3 separate regions of the Homo sapiens genome follow, and all the other regions are linked to region 2. Evidence: fine-mapped expression QTL. A gene starts in region 2. Each other region holds a variant in brackets. All regions are shown on one strand. Distances are between the middles of the regions.

What was found. PIP is the estimated chance that this variant, and not a neighbour inherited with it, causes the effect.
Region 1: its variant is fine-mapped to the expression of GALK2 in whole blood (TOPMed, PIP 0.99).
Region 3: its variant is fine-mapped to the expression of GALK2 in blood mononuclear cells (TOPMed, PIP 0.96).

Annotation. Positions count from the first base shown.
Region 1 is chr15:49,318,800-49,324,026 of GRCh38, forward strand. GALK2 (galactokinase 2) reads left to right here. Exons shown (of 10, transcript NM_002044.4): 9 at 805-1,006. Among named protein-coding and RNA genes, the nearest start is that of FGF7, 100 kb to the right of the region's middle. The variant C/T (reference allele first, on the strand shown) is at 3,085.
Region 2 is chr15:49,168,246-49,173,472 of GRCh38, forward strand. GALK2 (galactokinase 2) reads left to right here and starts at 2,002. Exons shown (of 10, transcript NM_002044.4): 1 at 2,002-2,130. The coding sequence starts at 2,078. It overlaps MIR4716 (microRNA 4716), which reads right to left and starts at 908; the gene lies at 825-908. RefSeq lists enhancers at 1,414-2,318, 1,950-2,189.
Region 3 is chr15:49,221,402-49,226,628 of GRCh38, forward strand. The region is part of intron 3 of GALK2 (galactokinase 2); the gene reads left to right. Among named protein-coding and RNA genes, the nearest start is that of GALK2, 54 kb to the left of the region's middle. The variant GTTTA/G (reference allele first, on the strand shown) is at 2,803.

The DNA of each region.
Region 1 (5,227 bases), 150 kb after region 2:
GATCTGTTTGGCTTCCGCCACATTCTGGATGTGTGTCCTTAAGCATGTCACTTCACTCTATTGAGCCTCCTTCTCTTTTCTGTTAACAGGGATCATACTGCACATCCCTCAGTGCTGTGATGAGAACTTTATGAGGTAGTACTTTTCTTTCTTTCTTTTTTTTTTTTTTGAGACGGAGTCGTGCTCTATCGCCCAGGCTGGAGTGCAACGGCGTGATCTCAGCTCACTGCAACCTCTGCCTCCCAGGTTCAAGCAATTCTCCCACTTCAGTCTCTCAAATAGCTGGGATTACATGCACCCACCATCATCATGCCCAGGTAATTTTTGTACTTTTAGTAGAGATGGGTTTTCACCATGTTGGTCAGGCTGGTCTTGAACTCCTGACCTCAGATGATCCACCTGCCTCGGCCTCCCAAAGTGCTGGGATTACGGATGTGAGCTACCGCGCCTGGCCTACACAAAGTAGTATTTTAAAGTGTTTGGCATGTAGGGTGTACTCATTACATGTTAGGTCTGTCTTCATTTGGGATGGATTAGATTGCACACAAGTATATGCACATGTGTGTTGAGTGAAGTGAAGGAAATATAGTTACAAGATTTTATTCAGTATCAAGAAAAAAGTAAACCTGACTTGCCGATAGACACATTTCAATTGAAAGAATCCTTTCAGCAAGAGAGACCTATTGAAGTTTAAGATACTGATAATGAAAACAGAAATGAAAGTCTTTAAAAGTGTATTTTTCTTTATACTGGGTTGTCCAGTAACTATTCCTAACCTCCTTCCCCATCCTCTTCCTTCCTCAGTGCTCATCTTCAAACTCTATCAGCGGGCAAAGCATGTGTACAGCGAGGCTGCGCGAGTGCTCCAGTTTAAGAAGATATGTGAAGAAGCACCTGAAAACATGGTCCAGCTGCTGGGAGAGTTGATGAACCAGAGCCACATGAGCTGCCGGGACATGTATGAGTGCAGCTGCCCCGAGCTGGATCAGCTGGTGGACATCTGTCGGTGAGGCAGCCTGGTGGGGGCCAAGGGATGCCATCAAATAATATTGTTTAAATTAATGGAAAAAAATGCAACATTTCATAATCTACGGGAATGAAGATCATTCCCCACTTCCTATATGAGGAGTCTCTGATGATACAGAGCTACACTTGTTCCCTTCTAAATACCTGTAGGATGAAAGATTTGCTACCTGGCTCCATGATTTTATGAGGCTCTGGGTTTGGAGTCAGTTTGGAGTCAGCTCTTTACATCATGAGAAAGACCTTTCCGTCTTTGGATGATTAGGCCTTTCAGGATGGTAACTTTGCTCAGAGCTGGGCCCTGTTAACTTTCTTATGATATGTTTTATTATACTGCTGCTCTGCCAGAAACTCCTGTCCAGTGTCCTAATTAAGTTTAGTAGTTCTACTCAGAAGAAGGGAGAAAACTGACAGAGGATCTCAAGCTTGATGGGAGCATGTGGGGAGATTTGCTGAAGGAATCACCCAGAAAGCCAGCATTTCCTGCCTTCTAGGTTTAGTTTAGGCAGTTTGAGGAAATAAAGGCTGAAGAAAGCCCAGGTGATACATGGTTAATAGAGGCAGAAATGTAAAGAGGACAACTCTTTCACAAAGCCTAAAATCAGCTTTCCTAAAATTGTGAAAGAATGGAGATAACAGAGTTAGTCCTCTTACCCAGGAAGGAGCTCAGTGACCCTGGGAGAACTGAAACTGGGAAAGTTCTCAAACGCTAGATGTTACTTCACTGTGAGAACACAATGCTACACTACAATTAGTAATGGAAATGTAATTAACCACTTGGCACTTGTGGCTTGCCTCAGTCATTGCCACACTCCCAGCCTGAAAAGTTTAAACCAAGTAACTCCAGTGATCACAAATGGCCTGGGTAATCCAGCTTGTCAAAAGACTTGAACACAGCATTGATGAAGATCACTCTGCTGACATGTTTGCTCACTCATTTCCAAAAGCCTTCCCCAGCTTGTTTCATTTTAAGTACCCTTTTCTGAAAATATCAAGGGCCTAGTATATGGAAGGGACAAATATTGTTCAGTTCTGGAAATAAGAGGAAGTGGAATTATTTCTGCAGAGATCAGGAAGAAATGTCTTTGCCTGGAAGGAAGTGGGATGGTTGGAATCCCACCTGAAAAGCTGCGGAAGGGCATTTGCCAGCTTCCTGGAATTCTCTAATAAACTTTCTCTTCCTAGAGTGGTCAACCTGTACTTGTTTTCATGGAGCTTACATTCTCGTGGGGAAAGAGAGAAATGACAATTAAAAATAATTTGAATGGTAGTGATAAGTGCTATGGAAAAAAATGAGAAGGAATAGAGACTACAGGTTTGGGTGGGTACTCTTTCTGTGGAGTGGTTGAAGAAGGTCACTCTGACGAAGAGATCTTTGAGCAGAGGCCTGAAGGAGGTGAATAAATGAGAACAGCAAATGCATAGGCCCTGAGGTGGATACTTGGCTGTCAGGTGTGAGGCTCAGCAGGATCAGCATGGCAGAGGGCCAGGAAGGAAGGAGAGGTAGTAGATGAAGTAAGGAAGGAAGTGGGGAGCCACACCATATAGGCCGTGTAGGCCATCGGAAGGCTTCTGGCTTTGAGAAGAGAAAGGGGGCAATGGAAATGCTAGGCAATTCTATGCCAAATATGCCTGCAAGGAAGACTTAGATAATTGCTGTGTGGGTATAAGAGAGAAATCAAGACGACTCCTGGGTTTTTGTCCTGAGAAACTTTCCTTGTGCCTCTAAAAGCCACATTTTTGAAAAGCACACTTCACCACTGTAGGTAAGAGTTATCTTAGAGTACCATAAAATATTAGATCAGGAAGGGGTCTTAGAGATCCAGGAAGGCACTAAGAGATGAAATAATTTGAGTAAGTTTCACATATGAGTTCATTGGAAAGCCTGGCTCCCAATCCAATGATTTTGCCACACGTGCCTCTCCCCTTGGGTTATACTAAGATGTGATTACACTTAAATGTGGGTCATACATACGTGTGTGTACGTGTGTGTTTGTAACCTATTTTCATCTCCTAGCTTTGAAGCTTTATGATGGAGGCCTTTGTTGTCATAGTTTCCAG[C/T]ATTTGAACATTAAGCAAAGTCATGTTGAGCAGGAACGTAATGTGTAGAGTAGGATGAAAAGTGGGCTGGAAGTGAGGAAGCTTGGATTCCGACTCTCTTTTCATTCTGAGCTCTGTGAGCTGGAACTGTTGCTTCGCTTTGTGTTCTCCATTGGCTTTTTCTGTTCTAGCAGTCTACAGACCTATACATTTAAAAAATATGGTTCTAGTGAAAAAGCTTATGGCTATGTCTTAAATGGGTTTGGAAGAGTACCTTTTATTTATCTTTTCATTTTGTTTGTTTTTGGAAAATCCTTTCTTAATGGCAGCTAAAGTGTTTCATTTTCATTTGCTGTATTTATTTTCTGAGAAAAATTCAGTTCTGTGAAAAATTCAGGAGCTCCATCACTTTTTCATGATTGTTTTGTTTGGAAAGCCAATTGCTAAGTATCAAAGTTATTTTCTACTTATTCGATAACCATATAGGGTCCAAGTTTTCCATATTGAAAGATTATCTTCTGGCTTGTTGGCCAGAATAGTTGTCTGGTCCTTAAAGCTTCTTATATAATTAATTTTTTCTTTGCTGTCACTGTGACCAGCAGATAATATTCTTCAAATGTTTCAGTTGGCTGCAAGTTACTGAAAGGTCCTAAGTGGCAGAGCAACCTCAGAGGAGGATAGCCCCAGGGGAATTAAGTTGATGCAGGCATTATGTCCTTCCCTCCTTCAATCAATACATATTTTCACATGGGTATCTTTGTACCGTGTGAAATTGCAGTCTATTCTCTACTTTCAAAAGCTGTGACTTTCTCTTGCCGGGCCCAATTGCTCACACCTGTAATCCCAGCACTTTGGGAGGCCAAGGCGGGCAGATCATGAGGTCAGGAGATCGAGATCATCCTGGCTAACACGGTGAAACCCCATCTCTATTAAAAATACAAAAAATTAGCCGAGCGTGGCGGCATGCGCCTGTAGTCCCAGCTACTCGGGAGGCTGAGGCGGGAGAATGGCGTGAACCCGGGAGGCAGAGCTTGCAGTGAGCCGAGATCGCAACACTGCCCTCCAGCCTGTGGGACAGAGCAAGACTCCATCTCAGGTAAAAAAAAAAAAAAAAGAAAAAAAAAAAAAGATGTCTGGAAAGTAATGAGGCAAGAAGGAGGGGTTCAGAAGAATGCAGAAATTAGTGGGAATAAGATAAAGGATGGATAAAGGATGGGGAAGACAGACGGTACAAGAGTAGCAGGTAGTAACATGGGGAAAGGTTCGAATGAACAGTGGAGCTACTTGTAAGCCCTAGTTCCTTCTGAAGCCTTGTGACTGTCTCACTGGGTCAGGCAGAGAAGGTGTTGGACATACTGGAAGGGGTCCTGGCAAGGCCTGGTGTGAGCCACTGGTGCCACAGACACAACCTCTAGCAAAGTATTGCTTTGTTTAAAAACCACCACCACCTCCACAATTACCCTGCCACCATTAAAAATGTTAACATCAGTAGGGAAGGTGTGACTAAGACTGGGCAGCCTGAGCAGGTTGCTTGTTTTCCCCAAAAGAGGGAGGAGGAGGGAAGCTGAAATGGGTTCAAGGAGGAGCACTGCCAAAAATAATCTTTACATCACCCTCCCTGGTCCACTTATGGCACTTCAAAATTCCTTTAGTGTTTCTGAAGGGCTTCTTGGAAACTATTTGTATGAAAAGACAACTAATTGAGTGAGTAAATTAACGGCTTGAATACCTAGAATACCTAAGTTGCTATACACAAGCAGAAAATCTTACAGTGATCTGAGCTAGACTGAATTAAAAAGGCATCTCCTACTTAGCATATAGGACAATGTATAGAACAACTTTGTGACCCAAGTGGAGAGAAGGGGGGTTGGGAAAGAGCACCACTGCTAGCTGTCTTTTTCAGTTGAACCTTTTCCTGCTCTTCAAGAGAAAATCAGTTTAGAATCTAAAGAAAGGAGCAGGGAGGATGAAGGAAACTATACTTACAGAGTGAGGCTTTTTTAAAAAATTAAATTAATGTTAGAACTTAAATTATATGAAACAAAGTAAATAATGAAGGAAAAAGATAATGTTTGCTGAATTATAAAGTATCTTTTGTAGCCAAACAAAATGTAAACAGAAAGAAATGACTAAATTTTAAGTAGAATTTACTGGAGAACACAAA
Region 2 (5,227 bases):
TGTTCGGTCATCAAGTACATATTCAGTAGGAAGTATTCTTTTTCGAAACAGTTTCTACAGTCATTTTTTTTTAACCCTGTATAAAATGAGTTTATTTTGGACTGTTAAAAAAATTCAAAACTTTAAAATTTGTTATTTTTCAACTAATGCAAAAGAATATATTAGAAACATCTGAATAAAAAATGATTCTGGGCTGGGCACGGTGGCTCACACCTTTAATCCCAGAATTTTGGAAGGCCGAGGTGGGCTGATCACCTGAGGTCAGGAGCTCGAGACCAGCCTGCCCAGCATGGTGAAACCCCGTCTTTACTAAAAATACAAAAATTAGCTGGTGTGGTGGCGGCTGCCTGTATTCCCAGCTACTTGGGAGGCTGAGACGGGAGAATCGTTTGAACCTGGGAGGTGGAGGTTGTAGTGAACAGAGATCATGCCATTGCACTCCAGCCTGGGCAACAAAGAGCGAAACTCCATCTAAAAAAAAAAAAAAAGATTCTGTTCTTTTCTGTATTTACTGATGTCCCTAAACATTTTACATTTTTTTTTAAAATTTAGGTTATCTCCCTATTAAAACTATTTACAAGTGACAGTGATGACTCCTGTTACTCAAAATTAAACCAAAATGAACATCAAACTGGGATTTATTGGGGCCCAGAAACAAGAAGATATAATTCATTCATTTGAAAATGATAAAGAGGGACTGAAATAATAGTGAGAAAGCTGCCCTGAGACCAGAGTAACTTTGTTTCTTTGATGTATCATTTACAGTAATAACCCAACGGGGTGCCAAGGGGCTGCCACTCTTTGGCTATGCTTTATTGTCCATTCACACTTTGTCTCCATGTTTCCTTCCCCCTTCCTCCTGTATACATGTATACAGAAGGGGGAAGGAAACATGGAGACAAAGTATGCATATACATATAGAAATTCTGGAGCAGTAACTTACTGATGTATACAACTTATCGAATCTCTCTGAGTTATGCTACTACCCCTAGTGTGTTGGGCATGTTGGCTCAAACTTCCTTAATCAGGAAACTTTGGAATGGGTTTATTGCTAGCTGTCTTTGCTTGGGTTTAATCTCAATATTTCTGAGGTGCAAAGTGCACTAGATTGAGAGTTAATAGATCTGAATTTTAATTCCAGTTTTGTTCCCAATGATCACTGTGACCTCAGGCACATCATTTCACCTTTCGTCGTTCATTCAGTTTATCTTACCTATTCATTAAAAACCAATCTGCCTGCCCCCAGTTGCTTTCTAGTGGTAGTGATGATGGAGGTGGTGAGAGACACAATAAATACATAAGCAAATAGGAGAACTATGAAGGAAGGAAAAGTTAGTGATGTACTAGGGATAGTGTACTTTTGATAGGGCATCTAGGATTTCTCTAGATAAGTGAAAAATGAAGAGGTTTAACTGGATGCTAAGGGGTCTTGCACATTAAAAGGCATGTGTTTCCGTCTTTTCACTACTGTGTTCTAGGAAGGCCCACCAATGCCTCTAACCTGTAAATAAATGCAAATCTATTTAAATCAAGTGATACATCAATTTTATGTTGCTTGATTTGGAAGTAATCCGCAAAGAAGCAATAGCTAAACATTTTAGTGTTGTTTGGGGAGTAGCTGCTGAACAATAAAGACCAAAACCATAACTAAAAAACAAACAAACAAACAAAAAAACGCAGCCCGAGACAGATCAGAAACTAGGTGTATGTAGGGCGCCAGGTTATGACACTGTTCTCTGACATCCACAGGGCGCAAAAAGAAAACCTCACTAGTCAGCTTCGCACGTGCTCTGCGCAGGGGCTCCTGCGAGGCCCTAGTCCCTCCCTGGGAGCTAAGAGCAGGACGGAGGCTGTACCTGACTGCTGCTTGGAGGGAACCCTGGCTGAGTCCAGGGAGGAGGAGCCAGAGGAGGGGCCGATTGGAAGCAGCCACCTCAGCGAAGCTGCAGGATTTCCGCAGGGCGGGAGCTGTTTATCTCCCGGAAGAAAACGGCTCCTGTCACAGAAGTCTCGTGATTGCTCTGGGAGCTTTGCTTAGACACTTGAAACTACAGGAGAAAGAAGGATCTAGCGAAATATGGCTACAGAGAGCCCTGCTACGCGTCGGGTCCAGGTGGCAGAACATCCTAGGTGGGGGAGAGGAGACGCCGGGCTTTGGGATCTGCTGGGTTGGCTACGTGTAGATCGGGTCCACAGCACTTGGCTCCTCCCTTGGGGCGCTGCTTTTGGTCCCGGGGAGCAAGTGGAACCCTTGGGATTCTATAAGGACACGTGGCTGGGCTTGCAAAAAAGATCACGCCGCAAACACATTCTACCTTGACTACTACGAAGGGTTGTATGTTTTTTTCTTCATCCATGCAGATTCTTCTTTTCCTTTTCTTGTTGTAATTAGTGTACTCTTTCTACTGGGCTTCAGCAGAAATGCCCATATCCACACTGAACTCCTCTCTTTGTCTCGCATGCCAGTTGATACTGCTTTTTAAAAGTCTTCTTTCTAAATATTAATTGAAAACAAACACAAAAACCTTCTTGGTGTCTGCATCCTCTTTAAAACAAAACAAAACAAAAACACGAGAATCTCTGAACTGTCACTTAGGGAATTAATTTGCTGGCAGTCCCTAGCTACACAGTAACTAATAGTTTAGTGATGTCTCGGGGAGGATCTTTTCAGTTACAGGTACTTTGTAGAAATACTTCGTTCTGACTAATGGGGCTGAGGTCTCATAAAATGAAGTCTGTCACCTGCTACATTAGCGAAGGGCTTTCCTGACTCTCTGCTTTTGCTGTTTTTCTTTTCTTTTCTTTCTTCCTTCCTTTCTTTTTTCTTTTTCTTTTTCTTTTTTTTTTTTTTTTTGAGACGGAGTTTTGCTCTTGTTGCCCAGGCTGGAGTGCAGTGGCGCCATCTTGGCTCACCGCAACCTCCGCCTCCCAGGTTCAAGCGATTCTCCTGTCTCAGCCTCCTGAGTAGGTGGGATTACAGGCAGGCGTCACCACACCCGGCTAATTTTGTATTTTCATCAGAGATGGGGTTTCTCTATGTTGGTCAGGCTGGTCTCGAGCTCCTGAGCTCAAGTGATCCGCTCACCCTGGCCTCCCAAAGTGCTGGGATTACAGACGTGAGCCATCGCGCCCGGCCCTCTGCCTTTGCTGTTTTCAGTTTTTTTCTGTTAGTTTTTTTCTCTGGCATCAAGTCCTTAAGCTCTTCCTACTTGGTGGTTTATTACCACCGTGTGTCAGTTGATGATATTATACTTTACTACAACTTGAAAATGTTCTTTCATCCTTAAACCAGCAAACAGTGTGTCTTTAGTTACCAGAAAGAAGCATGATTTCTTATTATAGAGTCCAGCACAGCTTTGGACTACTTCTCAATGTCTTTGAATGTTTTAATATACTCTAGAGGTTCTTGTATAGCACTGTTGCCCTTATATATTTGAATTAATTAAGACACACTGTTAAAGGCATGCTTCCAATAAGATTAATGAGAAATTTGTTACATGAAAATAACTTGATCTCTTGTAGTTTAGTCTTATTTTTTTTTTTTGAGACAGAGTCTTGTTCTGTTGCCCAGGCTGGAGTATAGTGGCGCAGTCTCCGCTCACTGCAACCTCCACCTCCCAGGTTCAATCCATTCTCCTGCCTTAGCCTCCAGAGTAGCTGGGATTACAAGTGCCCGCCACCACGCCCCGTTATTTTTTTGTGTTTTTGGTAGAGACGGAGTTTCGCCATGTTGGCCAGGCTGGTCTCCAACTTGTGACCTCAAGTGATCCGCCCGTCTCAGCCTCCCAAATTGCTGGGATTACAGGCGTGAGCCACCGTGCCACGTCTATAGTTTAATCTTCTACATAAAACATACCCATGTGTAAATTCCTAATGTGTTTCCATTTTATGTGATTGTAATAATAAAGATCAACATTTCTATCTATATTTACCCTGTTTGGGGGAGGATGGTGGTAACAAGTATAGGTACATGTACTAAAAGTGAAGAATTGTTTACTGAATTTCCTTAGTGTTCTTCTTGCTTTTCATGATTTTTATATTATTCATGTAACAAATATTTATTGTTAATATTTATTCTGTGTTATCCACAGAAGAGATCATAGTAGATAAGCTCTGCCGTTTTCTTGTTTTTCATTTGTGCACAAAATGCAATTATTAGCTTCAAGCAATGTTTTATTTGCAGGAATGTTTTGCAGCCACTTACTCATTCTAGGAGGGATGTATTTTATTAAATCTAAATAGTATAATCTATAAATTCACCTAACCGGTCAAGTATTGCAATATGCTGAGAAGGAAAAAAAATGAATGAATGGTCAGCCTGCTTTCTTGTGGAACTCTTATTCTTTTTCCAGGATGCCTCTTCAACCTCACAAGGCACATGATCCTTTGAGTAAAGGCACTGGTCAACCATATCATACATTTTAGTAAAACTTAATTTTATTTTTATTATTTTTATGTAAAAATCAAATAGAAATTGAAGTTCTAATATTTTCTTTCTGTGTCCCACTCTTGCATGGTACCGGTACCGTAAGACTCTGAATTTCACTGTTCTGGCTTTCTTTGCATTCTTAGCAGTTGTATCTCTTATCTTTACTTTCTCTTTTGGATTAAGTTTTAAAACTTGTTGGATTATTGCTATTTTTGTAGCAGTTTTATTGACATTCACGTATCATATAACTAATTCATTTAAAGTTTGCAATTAAATGGGTTTAATGTATTCATAGAGCTATGCAACCATCACCATAATCAAATTTAGAACGTTTTCTTAGAAAGAACCCAGCCATCCCTTAGATTATCACACCCCAGAACTCCATTCCCTTTCCCCTCACCTAGCCTTAAACAACTACTGCTCTGTTTTCTGTATTTATAGATTTAGTCACTTTGGGCATTTCAAATGAATGGAATCATATAAAATGTGTGTTTTTTTGGTGACTGGCTTCTTCCATGTGGCATAATGTTCTGAAGGTTCATGTATCAGTACATCATTTAACATGTATCAGTATATCATTCCTTTTTATGGTTAAATAATATTCTAGCTTATGGATATACATTTTGTTTATACATTCAACAATTGATGGACATTTGGGTTGCTTCTATCTTTTGGCTCTTATGAATAATGCTGCTGTATGAACACATTCTTGAGTCTCTATTCTACCAGTTGAGCTAGCAGGGTGACACTGAATACATTTTTAATATTAAAAATTTGGATTATTTAAAAGTATATTCA
Region 3 (5,227 bases), 53 kb after region 2:
ATGCCTATAATCCCTGCACTTTGGGAGGCTGAGGCAGGCAGATCACCTGAGGTCAGGAGTTTGAGACCAGCCTGGCCAACATGATGAAGCCCTGTCTCTATTAAAAATACAAAAAATTAGCTGGGTGTGGTGGTGCGTGCCTATAATCCCAGCTACTCAGGAGGCTGAGGCAGGAGAATTGCTTGAGCCCAGGAGGTGGAGGTTGCAGTGAGCCGAGATCGTGACACTGCACTCCAGCCTGGGCAACAAGAGCAAAATCTCTGTCTTGAAAAAAATAAAAAAATTAAAAAAAAAAGAAAATGAGTTTGCTGTACATACATGGATGTATTTCTGGGTTCTCCCTTCTGTCCCATTATTACTTGTGTCTGTTTTGATACCAATACCTTGCTGTTTGGGTTTTTATAGCCTTATAATATATTTTGAGGTCAGATAGCGTGACCCCTCTTGCTTTGTTCTTTTTCCTCAGGAGTGCTTTGGCTATTTGGGCTCTTTTTTTTGGTTTTATACATATTTTAGGATATTTTTCTATTTTTGTGAAAATGACAGTAGTATTTTCATAGGGATTGCATTGAATTTGTAGACTGCTTTGGGCAGTATGTTCATTTTAACAATATTAATTTTTTCCAATCCATGAACATGGGATGTCTTTTCATTTGTTTGTGTCCTCTTCAATTTCATTCATCAGTGTTTTCTAGTTTTCCTTAGAGATCTTTCATCTCCTTGGTTAAATTTATTCTTAGGTATTTTTTTTTGTAGCTATTATAAACAGCATTTCTGGCTTAATTTCTTTCTCAGCTAGTTCATTATTGATGTATTGAAATGCTGCAAATTTTTGTATGTTGGTTTTTTATACTGCAACTTTACTGAATTTATTTATTAGGTGTAAGAGTTTTTTTTAGAGTCTAGGTTTTTCTGGATATAAAATCATGTCACCTGTGAAACAGGACAATTTAACTTCCTCCATTTCAACTTGGATCCTTCTATTTTTATTCTTGCCTGATTATTCTGGCTAAAATTTCTAGTATTATGTTGACTAGGAGTAGTGATATTGGTCATCTTTTTTGGGTTCCAGGTTTTACAGGAAAGGCTTCAACTTTTCTTTATTTGATATGATGTTAGCTGTGGGTTTGTCATATGAGACTTTTATTGTGTTGTGGTATATTTATTCTATGCCTGATAATTGAGAGTTTTTATCGTGAAAGGATGTTGAATTTTATTACATGCTTTCTCTATGTCTATTGAGATGATTATGTGGTTTCTGTCCTTTATTCTACTGATGCGATGTGTCACATTTAGTGATTTGTGTTTCTTGAACAATCCTTGCATCCCTGGGATAAATCCCGCTTGATCATGGTGTTTTATCTTTTTGATGTGCTGTGGGATTCAGTTTGCGGCAATTTTGTTGAAGATTTTTACATATATGTAAATAGGGATCTTGGCCTGCAGTTTTGGTTTTTGTTACACCTTTCTCTAATTTTAGCATCAGAGTGATGCTTGCCTTTTGGGACTAGGTTAATTCCCTTCTCTTCAATTCATTGGAATTGTTTGAAGAGGATTGGTATTTGTTCTTTGTAAGTTTGGTAGAATTTTTCAGTGAAGCTGTCCAGTCTTGGGCTTTTCTTTGTTGGAAGCCTTTTCATTTTACTGTTTCAATCTTGGTACTTGTTACTAGTCTGTTTATGTTTTTTGTTTCTTCCTGATTTAATCTTGGTATGTTGTGTGTTTAGGAATTTATCAATTTCCTTTAGGTTTTCTGGTTTGTTTGTGTATAGTATAGTTGTTCATAACAGTGTCTGATAAGCTTTTGTATTTCCATGGTATCAGTTGTAATGTCCTTTTTTGATTCTGATTTTGTTTATTTGGGTCTTCTCACTTTTTTTCGTGGTTAATCTGGCTAGCAGTTTATCAATTTTGTTCTTCTTTTCAAATAATCAACTTTCCATTTTCTTGATTCTTTGTATTTTTTCAGTAAAATAATTTCAACTTTTATTTTAGATTCAGGGGTTACATGTGCAGGTTTGTTACTTGGATACATTTTGTAATGGTGATGTTTGGGGTACAGATGATCCCATCACCCAGGTAGTTAGCATAGCAGCCAATAGGCAGTTTTTCAGCCCACACTTCCTGCCTCCCTACTGCCCCCGCCATTGCTTACTAGTCCTCAGTGTCTATTGTTCCCATCTTTATGTCCCTGTGTACTCATATTTAGCTCCCACTTATAAGTGAGAACATGCAGCAGTACTTGATTTTCTTCCTGTGTTAATTTGCTTAGGACTATAGCCTCCAGCTGCATCCATGTTGTCGCAAAGGATATGATTTCATCCTTTTTATGGCTGCATAGTATTCCCTGGTGTATGTATACCACAGTTTCTTTATCCAGCCCACCATTGATGGGCACCTGCGTTGATTCCATGTGTTTGCTATGGTAAATAGTGCTTCAATGAACATATGAGTGCATGTGTCTTTTTTTTTTTAGAATAATTTATTTTCCTATGGGTATATACCCAGTAATGGGATTGCTGGGTTAAATGGTAGTTCTGTTTTAAGTTCTGTGAGGAAACTCCAAACTGCTTTCCACAGTGGCTGAACTAATTTACACTCCCACCAAGAGTGTATAAGCATTCCTTTTTCTACACAGCCTTGCCAGCATCTGTTTCTTGTTGACATTTACATAATAGCCATTCTGACTGGAGTGAGATGGTATCTCATTGTGGTTTTGATTTGCATTTGTATGTCTTCCTTTGAGAAGTGTTTGTTCATATACTTTGCCCATTTTTAAGTGGGATTATTTGTTTTTTGCTT[GTTTA/G]TTTGTTTACAATGTTTACAGATTCTGATATTAGACCTTTGTCAGATGCATAGTTTGTGAATATTTTCTCTCATTTTGTGAGTTATCTGTTTACTCTGTTGATAGTTTCTTTCGCTGTGCAGAACCTCTTTAATTAGGTCTCACTTGTCAATTTTTGTTTTTATCACAGTTGCTTTTGGAGATTTAGCCATAAAATCTTGGCCAAATTCTAAGCATTTCCTAGGTTTTCTTCTAGGATTCATACAGCTTGAGGTCTTATATTTAAATCTTTTATCCATCTTGAATAAATTTTTATATATGCTGAAAGATAGGGGTCCAGTTTCATTCTACTGCATACGGCTAACCAGTTATACCAGCACCATTTATTGAATAGGGAGCCCTTCCTTCATTGCTTGTTTTTGTTGACTTTGTGGAAGATCAGATGGATGTAGGTGTTCAGCTTTATTTCTGGGTTTTCTATTCTGTTCTATAAGTCTATGTCTGTGTATCTGTTTTTGTACCAATACTATGCTGTTTTGGTTACTATAGCCTTGTAGTATAATTTGAAGTTGGGTAATGTGATAACTCCAATTTTTTTCCTTTTACTTTAGTTTTTTCACTGATTCTCCTCTGAGAGAAGTGGTGTTCTTTTAACTGTGGTTTAAATGGAGGATAGTCAATTGGCTTCATTTCTGGTTGCTTTCAGAGGGCCAAGGCTCTGTACAGGATCTTTATTTGTGGCTAGATTCTTGCCCCTGGTTTCACAAGTGATGTATATTGGCAGATTATTTTTGGTGTTTTAATTTGGGATGTGATCCAGTAAATGGTGCTTAAGAGTGGTGGCCAGCAGATAGGCTCTTAATCAGCTTCACAGCTTTTTTTGTATTTCAGTGCATTTGCAGTAGTGGTCTATAGTGGGGTAGGGGGAGACAGATGACCCTCTCAGCAGGTCTGTTCCTGAGCTTTGAGGAAGCCGCCTCTGATCACTGGCACTGATCCTGTCTTTTTCTTTAATTAGGTCTTCCGGGCTGCAGGGCTCCCTCAGGCAGAGGCTATGACCTGCAGATAGGCCACACCATTCTTGGACTGGTCCTGTAGAGCAGGGTTCCCCAATCCCTGTTACTGCTTCATGGCCTGTTCAGAAGTGGGCCACACAGCAGGAGGTGAGTGGTGGGTGAGTGAGCATTATTACCACCTGAGCTCGGTCTCCCGTCAGATCAGCAGTGGCATTAGACTGTCATGGAAGCATGAACCCTATTGTGGACTGCATGTGGGAGGGATCTAGGTTGCATGCTCCTTATGATAATCCAATGCTTGATGATCTGAGGTAGAACAGTTTCAACCTGAAACCATCCCCTCCTCCCCAACATACACCATCCATGGAAAAATTGTCTTCCACAAAACTGGTCCCTGTGCTAAAAAGGTTGGGGACTGCTGCTGTAGAGGGAGAGATGCCCTTCTCTGGTGCTGGCTTACAAGCCTCTGTGTTTCACTCCTCTCTGTCTTCTGAGGGTGTGGGCTCCTTCCCTGCTCTAGCACTGGCTACAGATCTTGGCTCAAGATTCCCAAGCTGCATGCTGCAGCCCTGAGCTGTTGGGACTGGCCCACAGCTCCATCTTTTGGCTCCCTTTGGCACAGCACCAACTGTGCTGGGGGATTCCAACTGCTTCCAGACCTCTGAGAAAGTACTCAGGCTGGCCTTTTGATAAAGCACCCATACTGGGCAGTGGAGGCTGCACTGTACTCATGTTCCTGTTAGAGCAGCTGGGCAGAGGCCTTGGAAGGGGCTGGTGGGCAGGAGTGCCTGCAGAACAGACATGCCCCATTCCCACTGGAAAGTCAGCCCTGTTCTCTTGACCCAGTGGTCAACTGGGGTTAGAGTTACTCAGAGGAAGAAGGGGAGCGTTGGGGGATGGGCACCTATGGCTGTATTCTGCTTGCGGCTGTCATGTGTGCCAAACCTCCATTCCATATAGGCTGGAGTACTTTTACTGCCTACTCTCCAGGCAGATCCCCTTGCCAGTTTAAATGTTTATGGGCGTCATAGGATCTCTTGTACCTAGGATTGGAGATCTGCAGCAAGAGTGGGTTGCCCCACTATCCCTTCACTAACCCCTCCCTCAGGAGGCTTTCAGGGCTGAGCATGAGCCCTAGCATTCAGCAACCCCACACAAGGTTCCCAGCTTCTTCTCTTTTCAGCCTCAGTGTCAGTGTTGCTTCTCTATCTACTCTTGGTGTTTTCTGTCTAAGATTTGCTCAAAGTTTATTAGTTTACTTAATTTTTAGTCTCGTTCAGTGGGAGTGGTGCTTCCTGGCTGTGTCTAGTCAGCCACCTTATCTGCTATCCCTCCAAAAGCTTTAACCCTTTATGTTTTTTTTTAGTAGCTACTTTATTTACTTCTATTCTGATCTTCATTATTTCTTTCCTTCCACTATTTTTGG